Regions from separate parts of the Homo sapiens genome. Here all the other regions are reported to be linked to region 1. Evidence: microRNA targets listed by miRTarBase, many of them from high-throughput screens and not tested one by one. Region 1 holds a microRNA gene; each other region holds the end of a gene's coding sequence.
What was found. The annotated mature microRNA hsa-miR-4646-5p reads ACUGGGAAGAGGAGCUGAGGGA and lies in region 1 at 2,349-2,370, shown strand. An mRNA with a match to its seed (bases 2 to 7 or 8) in the 3' UTR can be bound and repressed. Matches are read on the target gene's strand: a 7mer-m8 pairs with bases 2 to 8, a 7mer-A1 pairs with bases 2 to 7 and ends in A, and an 8mer does both.

Region 1 (4,066 bases):
CGCGAAACTCTTCTCAGGAAGCACTGAAAATGTCGCAACTCGCCCGGAGGCGGAGCCGGTACGGGCTGACGTCAAGGGCACACAACACCTCAGAGGCAGGGAGGGCGGGGCCGGCAGGGGGACCTGCTGCTGGAAGAGCAGCGGCCCGAGCCGGGGCCATGGCGAAGCTGCTGAGCTGCGTCCTAGGCCCCCGGCTCTACAAAATCTACCGGGAGAGGGACTCTGAAAGGGCCCCGGCCAGCGTCCCTGAGACGCCAACGGCAGTCACTGCCCCCCATTCCAGCTCCTGGGTGAGTCGAGTTCCTCCCCACCGAAGAACGTGGTACAGTCCAAACCCTTTACGGCCTTTTGCTCCCCAGAAGTGCCCATAATGGGAAATAAGGGGAGCCTGCTTGTCAAGCCAGTTATCCGCAAAATCTGCGCTCTGTGTGCTTCCTGAGTTAAAGTCACGCCTACGGACTGGCCGCCTCCTTTCTTTTTCGCTCTTTACCGCTTTCTCATTCCGACTGCCACTCTTTGTTCTTTCCTCTCCGCGTCCCCCCGACCCTGTGTGTCGTGGTTCGTGCCGGTCCCAGTTGAGTCTTGAGTCCCGGGAAGAGACCCTGCGCGGACTGGGGAGCCGTTGAATTTTGCTGTCAGACTCCCAGTTTCCTCTTCTTCAGTGCCTCTTCATGCCTCCCCCGGCTCTGTTTTTATCTTCCCTTTACCCTCGCCTTGAATTTCAGAATGACTTTTACAGATCCTGTATCCGTCGGTCCTCCCCTCAACCCCCGCCCAACCTAGCCTGGAGACCCGAGTCATTGTATTCTGGAGAGCTGGCGGGTGGTGGTAGGCTGTTCTAAATATTCTCTTCCTTTTTATCAGTTGTCTCATTGTGTTACTGTCTCCTACAAACTGCCCGCTCCTACCCACATTCTCTTCTTAGTCAACTACTCTTATTTCTGATGCTTTTCTTTCCTTCTTAGATTGTCTAGGTGTCTTTTCTTTCTTCTCAAACTAACCCTTCTCCCCACATGCACGCGCCTGCAATCCATTTGAAACTAGGCTGTGGAAAAGGAGCAAAAATCGTCCAATGCTGCTTTCACTTTTGCTTCCAAATCCAGCTCCCTGTGTTTGTTCCCATGGTCAGGGGTGGGAAATTAGGTTCAGAGTGAGGGTGAGGAAGAGGAGTTTCTGTGGGGGCCAGGGATGTTTCAAGAGAGATAGTCAACGAGACTAGAACCAGAGGACACACAGCAGGGCTTCTGAAAGGGAAGGGAAAGGACCTGCCAGTGGGCAGGGTCCTTAAGGAGGCCATCTGTTTTGGCAGGATACGTACTATCAGCCCCGTGCCCTGGAGAAACATGCTGACAGCATCCTGGCACTGGTATGTCTACCCTGGCATCTGGGACTCTGCATCTTTCAGACCCACCTGTCCTCTTGAACTTAGCCCTCCCTAACTTGGGAGCAACAGTGCCCTGGGGTTGGGGGATGCCCTGGGCTCTGCAGCAGACCTCTCCAACACAGACACACAGGCACACTCTAAATGTGCATACTTGGCACTCCCCTTTGGTATGTAGCACTGCTTTCTCTGGGGGCAACCTGAGCCGTAAGGAAAACATGTTTACTCTTGGGACCATCTGCAGGTGCTAAGTCCTGCAGTTCCCCAGTGACCTGTCCTCCCTGGCAACTAACCTCTTTGGCTGCAGGGACAGCTGTTCTTTCTGGCACAGTTCCTGTGGTGACGTTTGCGCATCTCTTGGGGACCAGGCCAGGGGCTGTCCTGAGCAGGGCCAATTGAAAAGGCTTGATTAACTTGAGTAGACAGAGAGACTGCCTTTAAATGTGATGGAATTATGTCTGGAGATGGAAGACATAATTCTTCCATAATTCCAGAGGAAGAAAATAGAGCCTGTACCAAATTTTCCCAGCCTCCATTACATTGACACACTACTTTTCAACAAATACTGAGCACCTACTGTATTCATGGTGTCATACACCAAATATGATATGATATCCCTCAGGTTGTCCATCTTGCTCAGAGTGTATAGTATATGCCTGGAATGGCAGGTGTGTGTGTGTGTGTGTATTGATTGCCTGTCCCTGTCTCTCTGCTGCAGGCTTCAGTATTCTGGTCCATCTCTTATTACTCCTCTCCCTTCGCCTTCTTCTACTTGTACAGGAAAGGTCAGTGTGGTTTCAAAGGTGGTGGGGTAGCAAATGGGCAGGTTGTTGGCAGATGAGCCAGCTCCCTAAAGAGGAGAGGGGACCTGTGAAGATGGCTTGGCTTCCCTCTTCCATCAGGCATCTTCTTCCTCTTAGGGTATGGCTGTTCCAAACAGGGAGTGTGGGGTGGAGGTTGGGGCTGAACTGGGAAGAGGAGCTGAGGGACATTGCGGAGAGGGTCTCACATTGTCCCTCTCCCTTCCCAGGTTACTTGAGTTTGTCCAAAGTGGTGCCGTTTTCTCACTATGCTGGGACATTGCTGCTACTTCTGGCAGGTGTGGCCTGCCTCCGAGGTAGGTGGAGAGGAAACCTGGTTTGAATCTTATCTGTCACTGTCACTGGTTAAAAATTAAGTACCTTGTGCAAATACATTTTAGTGATGGGCCTCCGAGAGGGAATCATTGAGAATGGTTTAAGGCATGATCTTTTCCTTAAAAGACTTGGGTTATAAATATGAAAAAATAACTGAAAAGTAACAAAAAGGTTTGCTTTTTTTTTTTTAAGAGATAGGGTCTCACCATGTTGTCCAGGCTGGTCTCAAACTCCTGAACTCAAAGTGATCCTCCCACCTCAGCCTCCCGAAGTACTGGGATTATAGATGTGAGCCACTATGCCTGGCTGCTTTTATCTAGAAAAGATGCATATACCCTACAACAATTCTATATATGTATACATACTAGGAAAACTCCTGCACATGTATAAACAATATAGATGTACAAGAATACAGCATACAACATTGTTTGTAATAATCCTAAGCTGGAAACAACTCCAGTGGCTACAAATAGTAGGATGGATAAAATATGTTCTGTGTGGCCGGGTGTGGTGGCTCATGCCTGTAATCCCAGCACTTTGGGAGGCAGAGGCCAGTGGATCACGAGGTCAGGAATTTGAGACCAGCCTGACCAACATGGTAAAACCCCGTCTCTACCAAAAATACAAAAATTAGCTGGGCATGGTGGCACGTGCCTGTAATCCCAGCTACTTAGGAGGCTGAGGCAGGAGAATAGCTTGAACCTGGGAGGCAAAGGTTGCAGTGAGACGAGATTGCGCTACTGCACTCCATCCTGGGCAACAGAGCAAGACTCCGTCTCAAAAAAAAAAAAAAGTTCCATGCAATAGCCATGCAAGAGAACACTATATAGCAATGCAAATGAACAAACTGTAGCTACGCTCAACAACGCAGATGAAGCCAGGTGCAGTGGCTCATGCCTGTAATCCTAGCAGTTTGGTAGGCTGAAGCAGGCAGATCACCAGAGGTCAGGAGTTCAAGACCAGTCTGTCCAACATGGTGAAACCCCGTCTCTACTAAACATACAAAAAAAAATTAGCCAGGTATGGTGGTGAGCACCTGTAATCCCAGCTATTCGGGAGGCTGAGGCAGTAGAATTGCTTGAATCCAAGAGGCAGAGGTTGCAGTGAGCCAAGATTGCGCTACTGTACTGCATCCTGGGCAACAGAGCAAGGCTCCATCTCAGAAAAAATAAAATACAAAAAATTAACTGGGCATGGTGGCACATGCCTATAGTCTTAACTGCTTGGGAGGCTAAGGCATGAGAACTGCTTGAACCTGGGAGGCAGAGGTTGCAGTGAGCCAAGATAGCACCACTGCACTCCAGTCTGGGTGACAGAGCGAGACTCTGTCTCCAGATAAACAAAAGCAATGCAGATGAATTTCTCAAATGTTGTGTTAAATAGAAGAAGCTAACCACAAAATAATGTATGCAGTATGTTTTCATTTATATAAAATTCAAAAGGGATGTGCATGTTTGAGGTAGAACACCGAAGACAACAAGGGCATGGTTTTCTTTTTTTTTTTTTTTTTTTTTGAGACGGAGTCTCGCTCTGTCCCCCAGGCTGGAGT
Region 2 (4,066 bases), not on the chromosome of region 1:
AGGGAAAACTGTATGTTTGTTGATAAAGGTCATGGAGGTAAGAAATGAAGTTGGGGGAGTTGTCACTGTATATGAAGCAACATGTGTAAAGTTTAGTTTAAATACAGGTCACCGCCAGCTGCGGTGGCTCACACCTGTAATCCCAGCACTTTGGGAGGCCGAGGAGGGTGGATCACCTCAGGTCAGGAGTTCGAGACCATCCTGGCTAACATGGTGAAACCCCGTCTCTACTAAAAGTACAAAAATTAGCCAGGCATGGTGGCAGGCATCTGTAATCCCAGCTACTCCAGAGGCTGAGGCAGGAGAATCACTTGAACCCGGAAGGCGGAGGTTGCAGTGAGCCAAGATCGTACTACTGCACTCCAGCCTGGACGACAAGAGCGAGTGAGACTACGTCTCAAAAAAGAAAAGAAAAGAAATAAATAAATAAACAAATAAATACAGCTCACCTACAGCCAAGAAAAAACTAGACCAGGCTGGGAATGTACTTGCCCTCAGTGGGAAACTCTGGGCTTGTGTCAAAAATCTCATGGAAAGAACTCAAAAGTCAGGGAAGATAAAAACTGTTATTTCCTTGCATGTAACCAAAGGGAGTTACAAATTGGTAACAAACTTTTGGCTCTCACTCCAGTGTTTGCTGTCAGAAGTAGCTGCTCTCTAGCTAACCTGTAGCATTGGCATTCAGCTCCAGTGCATAGATCCTGAGGCCTAGCTGCTCTTGTCTAACAAGACAAGTATGGTGGATAGCAAATGACAGCCCCAGAGATGACAAGAGCACCTTTTCTGGGAATTGCCAACAATCCTGCCTTAGCCTGGGAAGGAGTTCATTACCCGCTGCTTACCAAACCCTGGTCTGTGAGACAGGCTGTGTCTCAAGGATTTTTAATAAGTTCAGTGCCTAGCACTTACTGACAATACATGCTTGCTAAATGAATAACTGACTGAATGAATGAATGAATGAAATGAACGACTATCAAAAACAAGATGCATAAGATGGAGATCTGGCTAGACTAGGGAATGTTCAGACTAGAACCCTGTTACTTCTAGCATCTTCACAGGGAAATTAGAATCCTCATTAAAGGTGGAAGTAGGTTGGGCGCGGTGGCTCACGCCTGTAATCCCAGCACTTTCGGAGGCAGAGGCAGGGGGATCACTTGAACTTAGGAGTTTGAGACCAGCCTGGACAACATGGCAAAACCCCGTCCCTACAAAAAATACAAAAATCAGCTGGGCCTGATGGCACATGCCTGCAATCTCAGCTACTCAAGAGGCAGAGGTGGGAGAATTATTTGAGCCCAGGAGGCAGAGGTTGCAATGAGCTGAGATTGCACCACTGCACTCCAGCCTGAGTGACAAAACTGTCTCAAAACAAACAAACAAACAAACAAAACGGAGGGAAGTAAGGAGCTACTTTCCAGGAAAGAGGGGATGCTTGGAAATGGCCCAGCCATACAACCAGATTTTTCTTTTATACCACCCACATGCTATAGATTGTCTGAGTGCAAGTGAGGAGAAATACTATTAAACACAAAGAAAGGATTTGGATCTGAAAGGGAAACACAAATGTACAACGTGAGGATTTTAACTTCTCTACACCACACAAGTTTATCCTACTACATTTTTATTAAAGTAACAAAAAGGTGTACATTTGTCCATAAGCTGTACATTCTTCCATATAAAAACACTATCATACAATTAGTAACCTTTGTCTTTTCTGTCAGAATAGCTTACAAACATACTACTACTATTTATTTTTACTTAATAGGAGAGACAGGCCTGCTCAACAGTCCAGCTCAGGGGTTTTGTTGTTTTTAAAGTGAACATCATAAAGAAGAGAAGAGAGACAAGATTAAGCATGAGACCATGAGGCTGCTTCTAAAAAGGCAGGGACCTGTTTGCAGACAAGATGCAAGAACACAGCCTGCAGTGATTCACAGCTTTGTTTCAACCCACAAACCAGAAAATTAGCTCTTGGGTCTGTGGGCCCAAAGTGAACTTTAAAGCAATAAAGACTGGAAGCAGGTCTGGGAAGGCAATACAAAATGTGGAGAGTTGAAAAGGAGGCAGAGCTGGCAGGAATGGGTAGGGAGAGTGTTTGGTAAATAGCACCTTTGAGTCAAAATTGAGCAGTTTAGAAATCCAGGAAAGGGGACTGGCTGTGGGGAGGAGAACCTGGGGGTAGAGGAAGTGGGGTGAAGATTCCTCACTAAGGGGCAACAGCAGGAGGGTGGCCATCCTGGCCAAATGCCCTAGCCCTGTCCTTCTTAAGGTGATTCGGTTTGGGAAACTCGAGGTCTTTTGAGGACCCCTCATCAATGTCACTGAGAAATTGAAGGAAGGGAGTTTCTTCCCAGTGTAGCTTTCCACTTTTCTCCAACCCACAACAGTATATATTGCACAAGTCTACGACAAATTTGGATTGTACTGAGACAGACAGCAACCTTTCCCACAGGTGCTCTGAGCACCAGGGAGAAAAAACAGTGCCCAAGGTTTGGCTTTTATTTAGTGTCGGCCCTACAAGAATACCAAGTAGTCTTGCAGAACATGGGGCACTCTCCCATTCAGCCAAGGAATACATGCAAGGCTGACTAGCCAGCCATCATCCCAAGGAGAGCAGGAGAGATGGTTCCCTAAGCCCACCAGGGCATCAGGAGGTTCTGATAGCCAGTTTTCCTCCAGACCCTCCTGGGACCCAGGGGGCATATTGCACAGTGACTGAGAACTCTTGTCCTAGAAAATACGGTAGCTCTATGACCCGACCAGAAGGGAAGGGGGAGGGGAGGGTTAGAGGAGAGTTGTGCTTTTGAAAAGAAGGCAGTAATAAAGGACCTGGAGTTCCCTGTAGCTTTTGAGCCACCTCTCAAAGGGATCATGGCAGCAGCATCAAGACTTTCATGTGGTTCCAAAAGGAAGAGTTTTGGCCAAAAAACATCCCCAGTGGATACTCTTTGGGTCCCAAAATTTCATTGCAAATCACCCCCAAATTATTTGCCACACATACACACAAAGCAGCACTAGCAAAGCAAAGGTTTTGTGCAGAGTTCCCTTCCATCCTAACCCCAATAACCTCCAGTTCCCTCCTCCCCCCCCTCAGAAAACCCAAAGCTTTAGATTCCTGGCTGGAAAGCAACATCTACAGGCCCCTGAGGGTAGAATTAGAAACAAGTCATGATTTCAAGAAAAGCAGCTTAGGACAGTAGGAATCAGGAGAGGCCTTTTCACTCTCTGCCCAGGACCTCATTAGAAAAATAAAAGAAAAGATAACATAGTATTGTTTAAGTCCAGGCATGAATGCCCCTGAGTAATAGAGGAGCCAGGGATGCAGGTGTCTGGCTGGGGGAGACAGAGAGCTCTGAACTTGGCCTCTCTTCCTCCCCCAGGGCAAATCCCGACCTCTCTGTTCACAGTTGCTAACCTTGCTTGCTCCCTCTCACATCTTCCTGGGGTGCTAGCCAAACGTCTCCCACTTCTCCTTGGCTAGGTCTACCCCCTAACAGCTCCCCCTCCTATAGGCAGACACTGGCTCACAGACTCAAGCACGCAACAGTTCTCTCCAAAGGCACCTGGGGAGGCCACTTCCAAGCAGCTCCCTTGAAGGATTTTTTTTCTTAAAAAAAACTTTTGGTTTCTTTTCCTCCTTTCTTAAAAAAAAATAATATATATAAATAGCTCTTCATTTAAAAATACAGTTCCCCAGGTTGAGGTATGTGGTGGCCTGTTGTCACGGCAGCATGAGCACGGCGGCGCCCAGGGCGGGGGCGGAAGGGCCTAGCTGGAGACTGCCATCACGTAGTTCTTGGAGGGGCTGCTCCGGCCCAGCAGCACTTGGTTCTTGCAGGTGAGGAGCCCACAGGAGGCGGCCAGTGGGGCCTCCTCGTACAAGACGCAGATGGAGCCGTCCTCCCCAATGCGGTAGGACACCTCATAGGGGTCCACCCACAGGGTCAGCTCGCTGGGCAGCAGCTGGTGCAGCTGGGGCTGGCTGAGTCCGATCTGGCTGGCCACCCTGCTGATGATGGGGTCCATCTTGTGGTTGATGCGAATGCAGCGGTAGCCGGAGCCCTTG
Region 3 (4,066 bases), not on the chromosome of region 1:
GCTGAGGGCACAAACCAGTCCTGGTTACCTCTCAAAAGGTCAGAGTAGGCTGGGCACGGTGGCTCACGCCTGTCATCCCACCACTTTGGAGTGACCACTTTGAGATCGTGCCATTGCACTCCAGCCTGGGCGACAGACTCTGTCACAAAAAAACAAACAAACAAACAAAAAAAGGCGGACGTCTGGGTAATGTCTGTGATGTCATTCTCGCGTGCATTCTGGTTTGCTAGAGAAAGGAATGTCGACACAGTTATAAAGCATGTAATTGCACTTAATACCTATCTTATCTATCAGCTTCTTGGAGGCATCGTTACTGCTGATAAAGTGGACGAATAATTGTGGTTTCATTTTTCCTCGGGAAAATTAATCATGGAGAGAGGTGTCAAAATGTAGGTGTGCGTACAGGATCGTGTCAAGCCCAAAACACCACGTTGCGTGGTATCTCCTTGTTTGAGAATCTCTGCCCCAGGTTTCAAATCTAAGCTCCTCAGGCAGCTGGCCTGACCCCGGGCCAAACCTGTTCTTGCCTCTAAGCTCCACATGCACCGTTCCCTCCACCCACAGCGCGCCGCCCTCTTGGAAAAACTCACAGCCATCTGCTGACGACGAGCTCCGTGGTTGCAGCTTGAAGCACTTTCTTTTTTTTTTTTGCTCTGTCGCCCAGGCTGGAGGGCAGTGGCATAATCTCGGCTCACTGTAACCTTCGCCTCCGGGGTTCAAGGGATTCTCCTGCCTCAGCCTTCCGAGTAGCTGGGATTACAGGCACACGCCACCCTGCCTGGCTAATTTTTGTATTTTTAGTAGAGATGGGGTTTCACCGTGTTGGCCAGGCTGGTCTTGAACTCCTGACCTCAGGTGATCCACCTGCCTCAGCCTCCCAAAGTGCTGGGACTACAGGCGTGAGCCACCGCGCCCGGCCCACTCATTCTCTTTCTTGTGGAGGCGACACTGATTTCATTTTGGCGAGTCATCTCCTCCCACTCTTGGTTCTGTGGTTTCCGGTGTGGGTTCCGGTGTGCCCCTGGTAGCTCTGTCTCCAGGGGCAGGCACTCGATCCAGGCCTGACCAATCAGAATCTATTCCTCTCCCTGGCTACAGTGATTGGGTCAGGGTGGATGCCTCATTCAAGGTGCTGCACTGAGAATCCGCTCTGAGACTTCCACATTTTGGGAAAGAGGCACTTCCTCTTTCTGCCTCCAATGCTGAACTGACAGAATGAAAGCCTGGAGCTGTGGGTGGCTGTTGCTGCCACCCCACCTCCAGGTGAGAATCTGCTTGGGAAAGAAGCCACTGTAGAGGAAGGTTCAGCCAGGCGATGGTTCCAGACACATTCCTGACAGTGTGTGAGCACCTGGAAGTAGCCTTACTCTGGGACTAAGGTGCTAATGCTTATAAATATCCTTTTTTTGGCCCAAGCCAGTTTGGACTGGGTTTGTCACTTGCAACAGAATTTGAACGAGAGGTGTCCGGGCACGGTGGCTCATGCCTGTCACCCCAGCACTTTGGGAGGCCGAGGTGGGAGGCATCACCCAAGGTCAGGAGTTCGAGACCAGCCTGGCCAACACGGTGAAACCCAATCTCTACTAAAAATACAAAAATTAGCCAGGCGTGGTGGCGCATGATGTAGTCCCAGCTACTCAGGAGGTTGAGGCAGGAGAATCACTTGAACCTGGGAGGTGGAGGTCGCAGTGAGCCAAGATCACACCACTACACTCCAGCCTGGGTGACAAGAACGAGACTGTCTCGAGAAAAACCTGCAACACGAGGCCCTTGGTTGCCTTCCGGGGCCCTCTTCGTTTCCTAATATTCATAAGGAGACCACATTGGCAAACACGTATTGCTTTATTTAGTGTTTCTCTGGATTGCAGAAGTGTCAGCAGTGGGCTGAGACCCCCAGAAGGGCATAGAGGCAGCTGGGCAGCCCCCAGGCCCTTGAGGGTAGGAGCAGGGAGAAGCAGCAGAAGGAGGTGATGCCCCTGCCGCTCCTCCCAAGGCCAGCCCCGTCCCCACGCTCCCATGCCAGGGAGGGGTCAGGGGCCAGAAAAGGCCCTACATCCTTGAGTGGGGCCCGAGTGTGCGGGCAAGCTGTCTGTCATCCCAAGGCCTGGACTCTGGCAGAGGCGCTTTTCCCACCTGGTGGCTCCCAGGGCCGATTGCTGGTCAAGGAGCCAGATATACTCTTAAGACATGATGTGGGTTTTATGGGGCTCCCTGGCTCTGGGAGTGGCAGTGAGGCACGCTGAGGAAGGGCTGCCATCTTGGTTTTGTGGCAACCTGCCGTATGACCGTGGGCAAGTGCCTTCTCCTGTTTGGGCATCTGTCTTCTGCTCTGTAACATCAAGGGGCTGGGCTGGATGATCTCTCAGCGTCTTCCAACCTCTATGGTCTAAGACGGCCTTCCCCACTCCAGCACTGCCTCAAACTGGGATGATGAGGACAGTAAAAGGGCGTTCTTTTTTTTTTTTTTTAAGACGGAGTCTCGCTCTGTTGCCCAGGCTGGAGTGCAGTGGTGTACTCTTGGCTCACTGCAACCTCCACTTCCCGGGTTCAAGTGATTCTCCTGCCTCAGCCTCCCGAGTAGCTGGGATTAGAGGCGTGCACCACCATGCCCGGCTAATTTTGTATTTTTACTAGAGGCGGAGTTTCTCCATGTAGGTCAGGTTGGTCTCGAAATCCTGACCTCAGGTTATCTGCCCGTCTCCGCCTCCCAAAGTGCTGGGGTTACAGGCGTGAGCCACCATGCCCAGCCTAAAAGGACATTCTTAAGGCAGAAAGAAGGGGGCAGGCAAGGGTGGTCTCAGCCCCCAGATGGAAGTCAGAGTGGGCTGCAAAAGATGCAGATGGGCAGGCAGGGAGACAGGTAAACAGACAGAAAGACAAGGTGCCAAGGGAATCAGGAGGAGAGGTGTCCTGGCCAGGGAAGAGGGCACCAGAGCCCAGCCCACACAACCTCTCGGCTACATTCCTTGCCCTGCTGGAGTCAGGGAAAACACATCCACTGTGTCCTTGGGTGGGAAATGGCTTTTTTTAAAAAATAGTTTCCTATAAAGCATCAAAAAAACCTCAGAGAAAACCTCAGCAAAAGTTCCCTTCTCTCAAATATTTGGCATCGGCAGTAGGGCTGGCATGGCTCGCTCTGGCCCTGGCTTTCCTATTGCTGTGGCCCGGCCTGGCCCACTCCTGGGGTAGCTCCTGGCCCCTGCTGCTCCCTCAAGAGAGGGATGGGCAGGAGGTGGGAGATTGCAGGTGGGCTTCGGGGTGTCCCTGGGTCCCTGTCTGGAAGTTCGAGTCTTTGGTAACTGGGAAGGGGAGGAGGAGAAAAGCAAAGCATTGGGCGTTGGGAGGGTCCAGTGGGCGCCTTTATCACCGAGAATTCAGCCGTGGGGCGACCTGTGGGGGCGGAGAGAGACGGCCAAGTGGTGAGGGGAGCAGACGGGGGCCCCGGTACTCAGACTTTTCTTTTCGTCCTTGTTTTTTCCTTTTTATGGAGAATGGGGTCTCGCTATATTGTCCAGGCTGGTCTTGGACTCCTGGGCTCAAGCTGTCCTCCCACCTCTGCTTCCCTAAGAGTTGGGATTACAGGCGTGAGCCGCCGCACCCAGCCCCAGCGCTCAGATTCATGGGTTCGATGCAGGCAGGAGTGGTGGGGGCCTAGTGGTCTCCATCCTGGAGACTCAGACCTGACTCCCATAGGAATGCCCACCGCCCTGGCCAGCGTGAGCCTGTGAGCCTGTCCTCCCTCCTGGCACCCCCAATCAGCCTATGTATCTTCCCTGCATTGCCGTGCTGCCTTTTTTTTTTTTTTTTTTTTTTTGAGACAGGGTCTCATTTTGTCACCCAGGCTGGAGTGCAGTGGTGAGATCTTGGGTCTCATTGCAGCCTCAACCTCCTGGGCTCAAGCAATCCTCTCATCTCAGGCTTCTGAGCAACTGGGACTACAGGCATACGCCACCACACCAGGCTAACTTTTTTGTATACAAATTCTGAGATGGAATTTTGCTCTTGTTGCCCAGGGTAGAGTGTAATGGCGCAATCTCGGCTCACCGCAACCTCCACCTCCCGGGTT
Region 4 (4,066 bases), not on the chromosome of region 1:
GGATTGCTCAGGTAATGACCTGGAGCAGTTACACATCAAAGTGACTTCACTGTGCAGTCGGATAGAGCAGATTCAGTGTTACAGTGCTAAAGATCGCCTGGCTCAGTCAGGTAAGCCTCTAACCTCCTCACTCTTTCTGCCTTCTTGCTTCCTGTTTTTATGATTATTACACCCCACCCTCAGTGCCTACCACCCTTCTCCAGACCCCATGCTCAGTGCTTGACTCTAGTTTTTCTCTCTAGACATGGCCAAACGTGTAGCCAACCTGCTGCGCGTGGTGCTGAGTCTGCATCATCCTCCTGATAGAACCTCCGACTCAACACCAGACCCTCAGCGAGTCCCTTTGCGCCTCTTGGCTCCCCACATTGGCCGGCTTCCCATGCCTGAGGACTATGCCATGGACGAACTGCGCAGCCTTACCCAGTCCTATCTGCGAGAACTGGCTGTTGGGAGCCTGTGAGCCCCAGGCACTTTGCATCACAGTCACATGCCCATTCACACCACACAGAGGTTCCCTGCCTTGTTTGGATTGGCACTGTTTGCCATTCTCTGGGTTGGCTGTGGCATCTACCCTCCCTCCCTGCTGCCAGAAGCAGCATCCTCCACTTGTTCAGGGCTTTTCTTAATACTGAACGTAGCATAAGGGCTTCTGGAACCCAGAAGAGGAGACAGTTTACCATCCTCAAGATCATTCAGTGTTTTTCCTTTAAAAAAATGGTCAATAAAGCTCCTTTGGCAGAATCCCCCAAAGAACCAGGGTATTCTTTTTCCATCCCTAGCCATTCTGGATCTTGTGACCCTCCATGCCAACCAGCTTCCCTACTCCTACCCTGGCCCTTTTATACTAGGACTCCTTAGGAGGAGTGAGACAGGTGATAATGGATCCTTAACAGATGAACTATCCACAGAAGGAAGAGGGATCCGTCTCTTAAGTAATTGGTTAGTTAACACTGAATTTTGGAGGCAAAGGAGGGTTGGCCTGAGTTAGGAAACAAAATGGGATCTTTCTGACACACTTAGGGCAGAAGTGAATGCCTGTCACGGAGGGATTGATCTTCAGGGCTGTTTTTGTTCCTGCCTTTAGAGTTCCATGAACACCATACCTTTGCTACTACTATGTGCAGGAACCCTTGGTCACATGTGACATGTCTGTGGGAAGCTCCCAGAGTTTGGTTTGGTCCCTGGTTTTCAGTCTTGCTGAGACTCTGTCTGGATTTGCCTGCAGAGTTTGGATAAAAAATGGCAGGTTGGGTAACCCTCCCTGTTCATCCCATGTTAGCTCCAAAGCATTTCCCACCCTCCATCTACCCCTTCCAGAAGCAAAAACAAACCATGACTGAGGCAGGCATGGAGTTGGGCGTTAGGGGCAGGCAGAGGGCCTTTGCTACACTGCTGACAGCTATAGGGAGCCCCAGGTAATGGCATGAGATAGCTGGTGTTAGGGCTATCTCAGGCAATATGGCCACACCTGGGTCTTTATGCATGAAGATAATGTAAAGGTTTTTATTAAAAAATATATATATGTATAAATAAATGATCTAGATATTTTCCTCTTTTTCTGAAGCTACTTTCTTAAAAAATAAATAAAATGTTTATAGCATTCCTGGTATTGGCTTTCCCTTTGTATTTTTGAGCCTTCTTACCCTGAGGATCTTTATGGTGGCCTTGTTTGATTTAGCCTGTTTTTGAATTTGCCTTCTAAATGGAGACAGGCCATGGGCTAAAGAGAACAATTGGGTGCTAAACTGAAAGATAGATTAGCCCAAAGGCTAGATTTATAAGGGGAAATTTAGGGGCAAGGGAGTTGATTATTGATTAATACTGATTGCTGTACATATATTTATGCACATAGATTCCCGGGTCTCAAATTGCCCAATAGAATATACCATTCAAAGCCTCCTCGCTCTTCTACTATAGTGGTTTTGTTTTTAAACCCTGAGTGACGCTTCACCTTTCTAAATCAGATTCCCTTTTGTAAAGGGGATAATGATTGCTGATGTTACTTCACACAGGGCTATTTTCAAGAGGAATCAATTGAGTAGCATGAGTACTATTCCAGATCTTATTTTGATCTGTCAAGCTGAAGATGTGAGCAAATTCCAATTAAGATTAGACCAAAGACTTCTGAGACTTTCAGGAATTCAGGGATGAGAAAGCAGAGTGGGTCAGCTCTGTTGTCTGGAACTTCCATTTAACTTAGATGCCTCAGGATAGGGGTTACTCAGCTGGAATCCCCTCCACTACTGACTCACTATGTGAACCTGAGTGAGTCACAAAACATAGTTGGACTTCCAGCAAAGAACACCTGACCTGGTTTCCTTACCAGAGGAATGTTTCAGAAAGTGAGTATGCTATAGAAATGGTTAGCTCTTAGCAGTGTTCGGAATTGTGGGCCAGGAGTGGTGGCTCACACCTGTAATCCCAGCACTTTGGGAGACCAAGGTGGGAGGATCGTTTGAGGCCAGGAGTTCAAGACCACCCCAGGCTACATGACAAGACTCTGTCTCTAAAAAAAAATAAAATTAGTTGGGCATGGTGGTGTGTGTGCATAGTCCCAGCTACTCAAGAGGCCTAAGCAAGAGGATCGCTTGAGCCTAGGAGCTGAAGGCTGCAGCGAGCCATGATTGTGCCACTGCACTCCAGCCTGGGCAACAGAGCAAGAAAAAAAAGGTTCTCAATCAAAGGTTTATCATAGAAGCCATGTTGTGCATAAAAGAGAATATCAACTTCCAGTTCAAGATAAGGGTGATGAACAATCTCTTCTTTTTTTTTTTTTTTTTTGAGACAGAGTCTCGCTCTGTCCCCCAGGCTGGAGTGCAGTGGGGCACGATCTGCAAGCTCCACCTCCCGGGTTCATGCCATTCTCCTTCCTCAGCCTCCCAAGTAGCTAGGACCACAGGCACCCGCCACCATGCCCGACTAATTTTTTTTTGTATTTTCAGTAGAGACGGGGTTTCACCGTGTTAGCCAGGATGGTCTCGATCTCCTGACCTCGTGATAAGCCTGCCTTGGCCTCCCAAAGTGCTGGGATTACAGACGTGAGCCACCGCGCCAGGCCTGAACAATCTCTTCCACATCCCAAAATCCCGTTGAAATAGTAAAAAATGTTTTAATTTCAAAAAAAATTCTCAAAAACATAAAACAGGAACCAGTTACCTCAACATTCGATAGATCTGTGGAATCTACAACATTCAAATAACTTATTTTCTCAACAGAACCCAAAGTTAACAGAGGTCTGGAGAATTAAATATTGGAATAATTAAGCAAAGGCCTGCAGAGTATCTGCTCTTTTTAGATGTTTCATCTTTAGCTCAGTTTTGTTAATTTGTATTTCCAGAAAATTGTTCCAGATTTTTTGTTATTCAAATAACCAGTCCTTAGACGTATTAATCAATTTTACTGGAGTTCTGTATAATCTTAATTTCTGCTTTAAATGTTCATTTCTTAGGCTTTCCTAAGGATTTGTTAAACCTTGTATTGGTTGGGCACGATGGCTCACGCCTGTAATCCCAGCACCTCGGGAGGCTGAGGAGGGAGAATCCCTTGAGCCCAGGAGTTTAAGACCAGCCTAGGCAACATAGGGAGACCTTGTCTCTTAAAAAATGAACAAAAATTAGCTGGGTGGTGTGCACCTTTAGTTCCAGCTATTCAGGAGGCTGAGGTGGCAGGATGGCTGTAGGGTATTTTGGTAGTTGTTCTTTAACAAGTTAAGGACAGTTCCCCTCTACTAGCTTGAATAAGTGAATGTTGGATTTCAATTTGAAATGATGTGAAACGCTTGTGTGTTAGGAAGGTGGTTGGAGATAAGCAGAGTACCTGGGAGAGGGGACGGGTGGAGAAAGTGCAGGGAATCACTGGCATATCCACGATGCCCAAAGTCATGGCTATGGATGTGATTGCCAGGGAAGTATGTGCTGCTGTTGGTCAGGCAACTGGTCAGCTTGAACAAAAATAATCAAAACTCTGTGCATGATAAATACCTGTGACCTGAGGATAGCCTGGCTACCTTACTGGGACCACAGTGTAAATATTGTTGATGACCTGCTGTACCTTAGGCACCGTGCTA
Region 5 (4,066 bases), not on the chromosome of region 1:
GCAACATCATCTGGAAAAGAAAAGGGAGACCCTGATGTGCAATCAAAAGGCTGCATGTAAAGACTGCTTGAACCAGAGAAAACCAAAACTTAAGGAAAACGATCCCTTTCTAAAAGTACAGCTATGCCCAGTTTTACAAAATTTATCCAAACCAGGAAAATCTGAGCTTAGGACACACAAAACAACAGGACGGTGGCTTTGCGTCACCGAAGGGCTCACACACGAGGGCAGCTTTCCACCGCTCCCCTGGTGTTCGTTAATTGCGTCGTCATTACAGCAAGAACTTGTCAAATGTGATAGGGTAGTGGTAAAAGGATGGGAGTACATCAATGTTTTTAAAAAGTGAACATGTAAAAACACACCAGGAAGAGTCCCAGTACAGAAATCGAATTGGGAGACCTCTTTTAAAGAGATGAGATAAAATCCCAGTTTTTCTTTTAAACAAACCCAGACTTCTACACATAATTTTCACATTCAGTTTGCTTAAAGCAAGGCACACCTTACTTAACAGTGGGATGGGGACAAAGCCAGCGAGTGGGCACCCCTCAAATCTTGACAGGCCCAGGGGGGCAGCAGTGGACAGGGAAGGGTGGCAAGGCCCCAGGCACCCACATGATCAGACGATCAGATGCCGGGGAAGGGCCACCTCTGGCTTTCACGTGAACAGGGCTGGGACTTACCCTACTGTACTTTGAGGTTTTTACACTGTCTCAAAATTTATCCTAATAATGCAGGGATTGGTAAAAATTTGAGAAAACAATTGTTTACCTGAGAAATTGTAACTACAGCCATTTAAACTCTGAATCATCAGACATGTACAAAGGTGTGCAGCTGACCCAGCTGGAGATGTTTGGTCTATTAATGTTTTTAGTATTAAAAGTTTTATAAAACAAGCATAGGGCTATAAAAAAGTACCCTTTTCGAAGTACTCTGGCCCACTAAAAATGAAAGTTTTCCTTCAAAATGATTAAAAAAAACAAAAATTGTAGTCCTACTTTTCTGCCAGCCCAGTCTGTCTCAGGCATCTGCTCAGGAAGCACCTCCTCCCTGCTGGGTGCCACCAGAGCTGGGTCCTCAGACCCCAGGGAGCCCAGGGCTGCAGGCCATCGCTTAGACACAGATGCCCTGGCCATCCCTGAAGTACCGCACGCAGGAGGTGGCAGCAGGCCCACAAATCTGCATGTTAAACAAGAACCGCCATCCCCCAGACAGCCTGACGCAGGTGGAAGAAACACACCTTTGAGACACATGGTTCCAGATGATTGTAAAAATGGCTGGAAACTAATCTAATTTCAGATTTGAAAAGTTATTAGTCACAAGATTCCCTCCTTAGCTTGAATGCATCCATTAATTTAAGCTACGAGCATGTCTGTATCCTTCTGAAAACAGGAGAAAGTGCCACTTGCCACTAAAACAAAAGGAACTGCCATTTCTTAGAGTGGGAGCTTCTGTCATTTAAAAAGATTAAAAAAAAATACAGCCAGAAGAGACTAATGCCATTAATAAGACACTCACACACAGGGACACACGCATGCACACACACACACACCACTCTGAGTACACATCTTCACAAATAATAGTCATCCCTTTGTCATTGCCGCCAATATCCAGGCGAGGTATCGGGAGACCCCCGACCTGCGGCTTGCTGCCCCTCCTGCTGCCTCCAAAGCAGCTGAGCACAAAGGTGGGGGGGGGGGTGCCGCTGAGCAGGAGGCAGCTCCTTTGGCACCCCACCCCACCACAGTGCCGAGGTAAGTGTCGCGCAGGGCCGGGGAGGGAACAGCAGCAGGAAGAGGGGACCTACGGAGCGCACAGCAGCACTAGGGGAGGCTCGCCTCCTTCCTGACGCCTCTACACGGAACATGGATTTGAGTCTTACTAAAACTGTGTACAGAGACAAAAAGCCCACTCAGCACAAACAGAGTTGTCTGTTGTTAGCCTTCAAAATCGTCCGTGGTGTCACTCTTAGTGCAACAGTTTCTAGATTGGCAAACCCAAGTCTGGGGCCCCAAATGCAAACCCCAGAAGAACGGCCCATGCCCTCTGCTGGCCCTGCTATCCTTGGGCCTCCCAGGGCCAGGCAAGCTCCTTCGCTGTGACCGACGGCCTCACGCCCAGCAGAGCCACCACCAACAGCTTTCTACGAATCTCAGTGCATAGATCTATGGAAGTCATCTGACAAAAGAGCACACGGAGAGGAGTGAGTCCCCACACATCAATGTTTCCCAGCAATGCAAGAATAAATAATTTCCACTTGTGCTTCATCAGCTGAGTGAGTGACACACGGGGATGAGGCGGCAGGGAGGGTGGCGAGCGGCGCGGAGGGCACATCCGTCCCTCCCATGGGTACACGCTGCACAGTCTCCACGGGGGAAGCGGGTTGCTGTCACATTAAGTCAATTGCATATTCCTGTCCTTAAGCACTAAGAACTGAGAGGCGGTCCCATCTCCAGGCTCCAAAACACTCTTGATATGCCAAACAGATCACAGAAGCACCCCATAGTCAATAAAATGAAAAAACAGCATCTATCTATCACATTAATACTGCAAACCAGATATATATATTCTTCTCTTACATTAAAGACATAACAGTGAAAAAGGATTGTACTGTATTTATCACCACAGACCCGTATTCTTTAAAAACTTTGGAAAATAAATGTCACAGTCCTATAGGACAAATCTGATGATTAGACTGTCAGTATATTGTCTTTTTTCTTTTTTTAAATACATTTTTTATTAAAATGGCACTTGTCTGCCAACCTCTCTGGACCTGGAAATGCTGTAAACACACGGGGCCCACCTTCTGCCACTGCTCCTTAGTTCAGGCCGGGTGAAGGGCGGTGCTGGCAGAACACGGCACCTGCGGACGCCTCTGCATGGCCACCGGCCCTCAGTCGAGGAACTTGGGTGAGCCACGCCAGGGGCACACGAGCATCGCCTGGAAATCAACTTTAGTGACAACATCAGAATGTTCAAGGCTTTAAAACCACACTTGTGTTTTGTGTTGCTTTCACTCTCAGAAGATTCACAGCTAGTTTGAGCCCATCAATTTCATAGAGAATCATGTATTAAAAACAAGTAAATTGAATGACCAAATAAATTAAAAATGTTTTAAAGCCCTGAGTTCATAGACTGGTTTTAGGAGATTTTTAGGACACACGGGACTCTGTTTTAATAAGCAGCTTATAGATTTTAGCAAACCATATTTCCTATGACATTGGGTTCTCATACAGGTCTGCAGTTCAAAATCCAAGTTTGAAATCTGGGACGGAAGGCATTCTGGAAAACGGAGAATCTAATAAAATCAATGACGTCTCATGTTCGATGCTGGCTGTCACGGAAGGGCTGGCCATCTGTTGGTCTGAGTGTAGCTGGTCTCGTGAATCCCACTCGGTACACAATCGCTAAACACTAAAACATGTCAAGCAAAGTACATGGTGCGCAGAGTGTCTTGGTGAACCTGGACCGCCTTGGCCAGTGCTTGGTGGTCTCGCCCGTTACTCTGCCCAGAGGTATGGCTTCCTTCAGCACTGCAGGGATGAGAGAGAGAGAGAATGAGAATGTGCAGCCTTAATGCACGATGAGGCAGTGCGTCGATCACTAAGTCGGGATGGCATGGCGGGAACCTGGGAGAGGGAAGAGTCCCACGCTGACGGCCGTGCCATTAACAGGCCTTCTGGGGTGCCGGCTCCAGCCGCTGGGGCCCTGCCCCTTCCCCTTCCAGAAAAGCAGCTGCCAATACCCGTGGCAAAAACCACCCCTGCTGTGACCTCCAGCCAGGCATGCCACTCACCTGTCATGTTCCTTATCCACCAGGTGGTACCTGGCCCGGAAGGCCACCAGGTGAGCGTAGTATGCTGGCGCTGGGATGGACACGGAGCGTGTGCAGCGCACGTAGGTGTGACACAGCTGGTAGGTTAGGATCTGCAGCTCATCAGAGGAGAAACGATTGTCGTCCCAGAGGACGTGATAGTGCGAAGGCCTGCTTGTCCCCTAAAGCAGATCAGAAGATTAGACAGTTGGACTCGCATAAAATCTTTAAAAGGATACTGTGGAGAAGATTTAT
Region 6 (4,066 bases), not on the chromosome of region 1:
TTAGCCGGGCGTGGTGGCATGCACCTGTAGTCCTGGCTCCTTGGGAGGCTGAGGCAGAATAGCTTGAACCCAGGAGGCGGAGGTTGCAGTGAGCCGAGACCATGCCATTGCACTCCAGCCTGGGTGACAGATGAGACTCGTCTCAAAAAAAAAAAAAAAAAAAAGACATTGGGGGATTTAGCTTGGATTTAGCCTAAGAGGTGAGGGGTGGGGTGGAAGTGGTGTTAGACATGTGATGAAAACTGAAAATATCTAAAGGTCTGCCTCAAGGAGGGGCAAGTGAACAGCCCCAGCCTGAACTGCTCTGGACAGAACCACGACCAATAGGCAACGTAGAAACATCTTGGTTCAATAGAAAGCAGAACTACAGAGCCTGCGGATGGCAGCCTAGGCCTGCCCATCACAGGCTGGACCACCAGGCACTGGACAGGGGCAGAGGAGAGGCAGGAGGATCCCTGCAGAGTGAGAGGGGCACTAGATGAACGTGAATGACCCTTCTGACTGTAAAAGTCTACGATTCCAGGACATTTGCTTCCTGCTCCAGAAGAAAGAATTTCAGGAATAAAAACTCAGTGAAAAAGTATATATCACCTTCATTTGAAAGGAACGAGGACATGAACACTCTTGGCTTGTATGACATGTACACACTGATTTTGATGATGAACTGAGAGGAACCAGGAGGCCGTCACTTGGTTGAAAGGAAGTTAGGCTGGTCTATGGGTTTTCATTTTCTGGACTAGGCTTTCCCCAACCTCAAAGAAGTGAGAGACGCAGGCACACAACCCCAGTGGGGCAGAGGCATGCGATGTCTGAGCCAACAAAGGATGGTGAGACTGAGAAATGAGTCACGCCTTGGAGCTGAGGTCCCGAGTGTGCAGGAAGGAGCTTTGGAAACATGTACAGGTGGGTCCCGAATCCACTGCTACTGTCATGCTATGTAGACAGTTGTGTAGACACATCTGGCAGGACCTCCCTCCCTCTATGTCTGGTGTGTTCCAGCATTCTGCCCTTCACTTGTTCTATTAATAGGCAGTGGGACAACATGATTCCGGGATGCAGCCTGCCTCTGCAACCCACCTGTGCACTGCAGCATGGGGAGTGATGGAGAGGGAGAGAGATGTTTTTCATGGCAACCAGAATCCTGCCTCCTCCTGCTCCCAGGAAGCTGTTAGACATCTTTATTTGGTCCCGATGCCACTGTTGGCCACCCTGTGGTGAAGTCTGGAGCCTGCAGCCGTTCGCCCTCCACGCTGCTCAGTCCACAGGGCCTTGGTCTTGCTTGATTCCCGTCTTGATGTGCGGCACCCATCACTGATTCTGAAACCACAGCCCCGTGCTCTCTGGAGGCCAACAATTTTTTCAAGCCAAGGCTCATTACCCCTGCAAGCCAACAGGCGGGCTGGTCTCTCTGCCGCCCTTCTTTCCCAGGAGGCTACAGCAGCATGGCCATGTCTGAACTAGCTCAGTGTCTTTATAGCACGTTCCTAGCCCAGAGTTTCCCATAGACACCTAGGAGTTGAGTCAACCTTCCAAGGTTAAGCAAGAAAGAGTTAAAGAGGAAGCGCTTTCACTGACCATCTCTGATTATTAATGAAGTTCAATGTCAAATAAATTAAATGACATCAGGCATAAAAACCTACAGCAACTTTAACAGCTGAAACACTTTACAAGATAGTGTGATATCCCTATAATTTGGTTTTTAAACAGTTACAACCAAAGATAAATGATTTTATTTTTTATAATTTTTACAGACCAAAAAACATTATACAGATTAATCATAATTTTCTTTAAAATGTGCATACTGTCACTCAAAAATTTCACATCCTAGGATATCAGTAATTATATCCTCCTCAAAGAAAACACAAAATATTTCCAAACAAAAATCGCTGTTGCCAGATCAGACTATTAAATTGTCCACAGCTTCTCAAATTTTCTTATACAGAGAACAAGATGATTAATTTTGAAAACGGAGAGAAGCAAAAATAAGAAAAGCTGAGACAGATCCCTCTGAGACGGACATTTTGTGGCCTGTAAAACTCAAGAGACTAAACAGGGATGTTCTTTATCAGAGCTGCAAAGCGTGTCTTTAAGGCAGAATCGTTCTGTCCAAGTAAAGAAATTCAAAGTAAAGAAAAGCTCCTACCAACTTCCCAATTTTGGGGGAAGCATTCCAAAAGGACATTTGAGGAGAGATTAGCACTCTGTTAACTATATTCCTATACCCCTATAAACATTCTTGGTGGCTGTTTAGACATTTTTAGGTAAATATTCTCAGGCTACAGACTACCCATACACAAAGACATATTAAGCCAGCTATGCAGGCAAAATCCATCTAGAGCTGATAGAATGAGGAACGTGGGAACAGAAGTCAAACTGCTCATTCCCAGGAGAAATAACATGAGCAAGAAGATGGCCACAGAACAAGGCAAAGTTACACACAGGCTTTGGTAATGAATGAACTGTCAACAACAGAAGGCACGTGGCTATGGAAAAAAAGCCAAATTTCAGTAGATCTCCCGACCTGACCCAGTTTCCACAGACAAGTGTTTCAGCAGGTCCATTGGCTTCATCTGAGTTTGAAGTTAAAAAACAAGCAGGGAACAGAGAATCAGGTCTTCAGTCTCCCTCAGTCTCTGTCTCCTGACACTGAGCCTTTCAGATATCGAACATGGTGTCTATCAAAGGGTGCAAACTTAGGTGTCGACAGGGGCAAGTGATGTGAATGAGGCTAGGGTCAGGGCCCGAGGGAATGCACAGACTCTCCCGACTAGAGAGAGGCAGCCCTGTCTGCACTCCTCACCAAGTGGACCAAACAAAACATCTGTGCAAAACATGCTCCTCCCAGACTGCCAGCTTGCCATCCTGATTCAGACAGGCAGCTTCTCCATGAGGATACACGGCTGGATGGAAATTGACTTGTCATCATCTCTACTGCCCACTATAATCACGATCAAGTGGTCGTATTTTACACATGACCCACTTTAACTAACTCGGCATTTTTATCTCCCTTCTGAGAAAAACAATACTTTAAAACTATTGTATTTGTCCACATTTGAGAAATGCAGAAATTTTTCAAAATTGACTTCTTTACTTTGGAGGAACACAAATGGGGTTTAAAAGTAAGGGTACTGAGTGACTTCCAAGGTTGTCAGATCTGGAACATTTACATAAAACAGAGACAGAAGTGGAAACATACAAAGAACTCCATCTGGAGGTCTTGTGAGATGACTGGGACATTCGGCAACTGTGAGTGGCTCTGCACCCAAGTGGAACTTAGTAAGTTTCTCTTGTGGATAAATATAAAAACTTAAAGAGTCCCCAGAAGGTCTTAAGAGCTAAGAAAACACACACACACACACACACACACCCCAAAATTATCTAATATCTAACGCCTCCCAACTTGCATCTCAGTCAACTACACATTGGCCAAACTGAGCTCTACAGTGCAATTGAGCAAAGTTACTTGTGCAACAGCAAAGTTAAATGTAAACATAAACAGCAATGGGTTTTTCAAGAGCCTCAGTGTTAACTATCGTATGTGGTCCAAATAATGCACTTCTGGATACAGACAGTTAACGAGAAGAGCCAAGAAGCTTTTCCCATCTTGAAGGCAATGGCCAGGATGCCTTATAAATTGGGTGGCTTGCAATATTTGATCCTGGTATTCAACATACTGCTTACTTGATGCCATGGATTCAAGAGCATTCAGAGCCTAAAAGACACGGAAGATGAGAGGGTTAACTCCATAGAGGCACATAATGTGACTGCCAGAGGTACAGCACACCCATTATCACTGTGTACTTCAACTGTGAGCCTTGTGGGAAGGAGGCCTACAGAACTGAGGCCAGGAGTCCGGAAGGCAGGCATTGATTAACTTAACCACAACCAGAAGGAGGCCAGCAGCCCAAGCCTCTGTGGCCTTTGCAGCATCCCACACCCAGCCTTCCCTGTTTCTGTTCTGTGCCATTTCCCAACCTTGCCTTACCAAGAGCCACTGCTGTGGCAGGCTGCTCTTGTTGCTGGGCGCCTCACCTGCCACACCGATTTCTAAAGCCTGCCTTGTCCT
Region 7 (4,066 bases), not on the chromosome of region 1:
CCAGCTACTCAGGAGGCTGAGGCAGGAGAATGGCGTGAACCCGGGAGGTGGAGCTTGCAGTGAGCTGAGTTCGCGCCACTGCACTCCAGCCTGGGCGATGGAGTGAGAGTCTGTCTCAAAAACAACCACCACCACCACCAAACAGCTATTTTTGGGCTATCGGTCCCATTTATATGATAACCCATTAATCCATTAACAGTGAAAGGATGGGCTGGGTGCGTTGGCTCATGCCTGCAATCCCAGCTCTTTGGGAGGCCGAAGTGAGTGGATCGTTTGAGGTCAGGAGTTCAAGACCAGCCTGGCTAATATGGTGAAACCCTGTCACTAATAAAATTACAAAAATTAACCAGGCATGGTGGTGAACACAAAAATTAGCTGGGCATGGTGGCACGTGCCTGTAGTTCCAGCTACTCAAGAGGCTGAGGCAGGGGAATTGCTTGAACCTGGGAGGTGGAGGTTGCAGTGAGCTGAGATCATGCCACTGCACTCCAGCATGGGTGACAGAGACGCCGGCTCAAAAAAAAAAAAAAAAAAAAAAAAGTGAAAGGATGAATCCCCTCATGCGGGCAGAGCCTTCATGACCCAATCATTTCTTGAAGGTCCCACTTCTGAATACTGCCACATTGGGAATCAAGTTTCAACATGAGTTTTAGAGGGGACAAACATTCAAACCATAGCAATCACCTCACTGATGCATTAGAATTGCTCAGAGCTCCCTACACACATCGCCCTAGGCTGGGGGTGGTGGCTCATGCCTATTATCCTAACTTTGGAAGCCAAGGCAGGCAGATCGCTTGACCTCAGGAGTTCAAGACCAGTCTGGCCAATATGGTGAAACCCTGTCTCTACAAAAAAAAAAAAAAAAAAAAAAAAAAAAAAAAAAAAAAAGCTGGGCATGCTGGTTCACACCTCCCAGCTACTCAGGAGGCTGAGTTGGGAGGATTGTTTGAGCCCAGGGGGTCGAGGCTGCAATGAGCCGTGTTCATGACACTGCACTCCAGGTTGGGGGACAAAGTGAGACCATATCCGAATCAATACATATCACCCTGTTCACGACTGTCTTTGCTCAAGTTGATGCCCCCCCCAACAAATGCCCTTATTTGCCTACTGCACCCTTTGCCTGTAGGTTCTGACATATCAAAGTCCAGTTTATTATCCAGTTTCCTTGACTTCAAGCATTCATTCAATACTGAACACCTACCTGCTACCTACTGGGCAAAACAAACTTGCTTCCTGCTCTTGTAGACACGGTCGTAGGTTACTTTCACTAATCACCAAATGCTTTAAGAAAACACATAGGGTTGGGTGTGGTGGCTCACACCTGTATTCACAGCACTTTGGGAGGCTGAGGCAGGAGGGTAACTTGAATCCAGGAGCTTGAGACCAGTCTGGGCAACACAGCGAGACCTTGTCTCTATAAAAAATACAAAAAACAGGCCAGGCTTGGTGGCTCACGCCTGTAATCCCAGTACTTTGGGAGGCCAAGGTGGGCGGATCACGAGGTCAGTTCAAGACCAGCCTGGCCAACACAGTGAAACCCCATCTCTACTAAAAATACAAAAAATTAGCTGGGTGTGGTGGCGTGCATCTGTAATCCCAGCTACTAGGGAGGCTGAGGCAGGAGAATCACTTGAATCTGGGAGGTGGAGGTTGCAGTGAGCGGAGATTGCGCCACTGCACTCCAGCCAGGGCAACAGTGCAAAATTCCATCTCGAAAACAAAAACAAAAAACTAGCTGGGCAGGGTGGTGCATGCCTGTAGTCCCAGCTATTCCAGAGCCTGAGGTGGGAGGATTGCTGAGTCTGGGAAGTAGAGGTTGCAGTGAGCTGAGATCGTGCCACTGCACTCCAGCCTGGGTGACAGAGATGCCGTCTCAAAACCAACCAACCAAACCAAAAAACCACATAGGATGCTAAGTGGGAGTACAAGGGGAACTTAGATTAAGGGTCCGGAGAGGCATCTTTGAGGAAATATTTGGCTAAGGTCAGAAGGGAGTAGGGGTTAGCTGAGTAAAAGGGAGGGGGGCACAAGCATTCTAGAGGGATCAACATGTTAAAAATAAACCCAAAGCAGAAGCCAAAAGGAAAGCAGCAGTTGTGGAACTGAAAAGGAGCCTATGGCTGCAGTGCAGAGAAAGGGGTGGCCAAAAGCGCCCGGAAAGTGCTGTAGTCCTATGGCCATGGCCTTCCCCTGCCTTCCTGTGGTACCTCCAAGCTAGGCCTAGAACCCTTCCTTTGTGCATCCTCTGGGTTATACTGGAACCTTTTTTTGTGTGTGTGTGAGATGGAGTTTCACTCTTGCTGCCCAGGCTGGAGTGCAATGGCACGATCTCGGCTCACTGCAACCTCTGCCTCCTAGGTTCAAGCAATTCTCCTGTCTCAGCGTCCCGAGTAGCTGGGACTACAGGCGCACAGTGCCACCATGCCTGGTTAATTTTTGTATTTTTAGCAGTGACGGAGTTTTGCCATGTTGGCCAGCCTGATCTCGAACTCCTGGGCTCAAGTGATCCGCCTGCCTTGGCCTCCCAAAGTGCTAGGATTACAGGTGTGAGCCACCGCGCCCAGCCCATCTTTTTTTTTTTTTTTTGAGGCAGTCTTGCTCTGTCACCCAGGCTGGTGTGCAGTGGCGGGATCACTGTTCACTGCAGCCTCAATCTCCAAGGCTCAAGGGATCCTCCCATCTCAGCCTTCTGAGTAGCTGGGACTAAACTACAGGTGCATGCCACTATACCTGACTAGTTTTCATATTTTTCATAGAGATGGGTTTTTGCCATGTTGCCCAGGCCGGTCTTGAACTCCTGGGCTCAAGATCCGCCTGCCTGAGCCTCCCAAAGTGCTGGGATTACAGGCATGGGCTACTGTGCCCAGCCTCCACCATAACTGGAAGCTATCTCTTCAGTTCAAAATTAAAGTTGGACAGGAAGGAAAAAATAGTACGTTTCTAAAGATGACTTTGATCTATCTATAATGAAAGGTATGGGTGGTTTTGAATTCCTTCCAGTGGTAATAAGAGGACAAAGTACTTAACCAATCCCACTACCTCTGTTTTGAATCACAAATTCCTGGGTGACTAAAATAAATTCCTAGAGTTAAAGTTAAATGGGGAAGGTGACTACCAGAAAATAAACACCAACTTTATTAATATAATAGCAACAGAAAGAGTTTCCAATTTCTCAAAAGGAAAATAATATGAGACTAGTGGGCTATGATGATGCCTGTGAATAGCCAGCTACTGTACCCCACTGTAGCTGGACAAGTGTTAAACAAGTAAATGCCTTTCAAGAGGGCAGAGCCCTGCCCCCCCACCCCCCCCCCAAAAAAAACGGGAAATGCCTACATTTCTTGTTCTGATAGCTTCCCACCACACACCAAAGGTTCCTCAAGGACAGCTGCCACCAGAGCTGCTGCAAGAACATGTTTTTCACTGGGCGTCGCTTCACAGTCAGTTCCTCAAGCAGAAGACTAAAATATTATTTCTTTTTAGAAGATCTTGGTTGAGGGAGAACATACCAATATGGAGAACAGATCTTTGCTTCTCGAATTCAAGAAAAACCATTAACTAATCTATCAAGTTTTCTCCGATATGGTGTGCCAGAGTGCTCTGTGAAGAATCCTTTTCCATCCCTACCACGTGTCTGGGTGAAGGGAGAGGAGGGGGTGGCAAGCTGCCAGTACACTAGCAGGCACTCCTGGTGATGCTCTGGGCTCTGCTCCCTTTCTGCTGGTAGTAGTAGGCATGTTTTCTGGCAGCTGCAGCAGACTGATGTTGGGGGGAGGAAGGGGCCACCCACCAATCACCTCTTCTTGAAGCCGTATTTTTTGCGTTCATAGAAGAGGTCTGTCTTAGAGCTCCCCAGATTGACAATCTTTGGGCAGCCATCTCTCTGGAAAACAGAACAGAGAAGTTGTTAAGTCTTTGAGCCTGAACCAAGAGTGACTTAAGATAAAAAATTTAAGCCCAGTGTGGTAGCATGTGCCTTTAGTCCCAGCTACTACTCGAAGGCCGAGGCAGGAGGATTGCTGAAGCCCAGGAGTTCGAGACTAGTGGGCTATGATGATGCCTGTGA

Region 2: the mRNA of BTG2 is a reported target of hsa-miR-4646-5p. Seed matches in the 3' UTR shown: 8mer at 2,024-2,031.
Region 3: miRTarBase lists MYO1C as a target of hsa-miR-4646-5p. Seed matches in the 3' UTR shown: 7mer-m8 at 3,300-3,306 and 7mer-A1 at 2,217-2,223.
Region 4: miRTarBase lists NUP98 as a target of hsa-miR-4646-5p. Seed matches in the 3' UTR shown: 7mer-A1 at 1,161-1,167.
Region 5: miRTarBase lists AGO2 as a target of hsa-miR-4646-5p. Seed matches in the 3' UTR shown: 7mer-A1 at 3,262-3,268.
Region 6: the mRNA of EPG5 is a reported target of hsa-miR-4646-5p. The part of its 3' UTR that is shown has no 7-base or 8-base seed match.
Region 7: the mRNA of PHF5A is a reported target of hsa-miR-4646-5p. The part of its 3' UTR that is shown has no 7-base or 8-base seed match.

The regions. Positions count from the first base shown.
Region 1 is chr6:31,699,374-31,703,439 of GRCh38, reverse strand. It overlaps MIR4646 (microRNA 4646), which reads left to right and starts at 2,349; the gene lies at 2,349-2,411. ABHD16A (abhydrolase domain containing 16A, phospholipase) reads left to right here and starts at 116. Exons shown (of 20, transcript NM_021160.3): 1 at 116-290; 2 at 1,310-1,366; 3 at 2,100-2,166; 4 at 2,412-2,498. The coding sequence starts at 159.
Region 2 is chr1:203,307,141-203,311,206 of GRCh38, reverse strand. It overlaps BTG2 (BTG anti-proliferation factor 2), which reads right to left. Exons shown (of 2, transcript NM_006763.3): 2 at 1,605-4,066. The coding sequence ends at 3,769. Among named protein-coding and RNA genes, the nearest start is that of BTG2, 3.7 kb to the right of the region's middle. RefSeq lists enhancers at 2,526-3,468, 3,813-4,052, 3,469-4,066.
Region 3 is chr17:1,462,363-1,466,428 of GRCh38, forward strand. It overlaps MYO1C (myosin IC), which reads right to left. Exons shown (of 32, transcript NM_001080779.2): 32 at 1,824-3,390. The coding sequence ends at 3,364. Among named protein-coding and RNA genes, the nearest start is that of CRK, 8.2 kb to the left of the region's middle. RefSeq lists enhancers at 634-713, 843-1,662.
Region 4 is chr11:3,672,553-3,676,618 of GRCh38, reverse strand. NUP98 (nucleoporin 98 and 96 precursor) reads left to right here. Exons shown (of 33, transcript NM_016320.5): 32 at 1-110; 33 at 243-1,600. The coding sequence ends at 460. Among named protein-coding and RNA genes, the nearest start is that of CHRNA10, 3.2 kb to the right of the region's middle.
Region 5 is chr8:140,528,623-140,532,688 of GRCh38, forward strand. AGO2 (argonaute RISC catalytic component 2) reads right to left here. Exons shown (of 19, transcript NM_012154.5): 18 at 3,794-3,993; 19 at 1-3,530. The coding sequence ends at 3,422. Among named protein-coding and RNA genes, the nearest start is that of CHRAC1, 19 kb to the left of the region's middle.
Region 6 is chr18:45,848,938-45,853,003 of GRCh38, forward strand. It overlaps EPG5 (ectopic P-granules 5 autophagy tethering factor), which reads right to left. Exons shown (of 44, transcript NM_020964.3): 44 at 1-3,712. The coding sequence ends at 3,530. Among named protein-coding and RNA genes, the nearest start is that of SIGLEC15, 25 kb to the left of the region's middle.
Region 7 is chr22:41,456,605-41,460,670 of GRCh38, forward strand. PHF5A (PHD finger protein 5A) reads right to left here. Exons shown (of 4, transcript NM_032758.4): 4 at 3,113-3,883. The coding sequence ends at 3,794. Among named protein-coding and RNA genes, the nearest start is that of PHF5A, 10 kb to the right of the region's middle.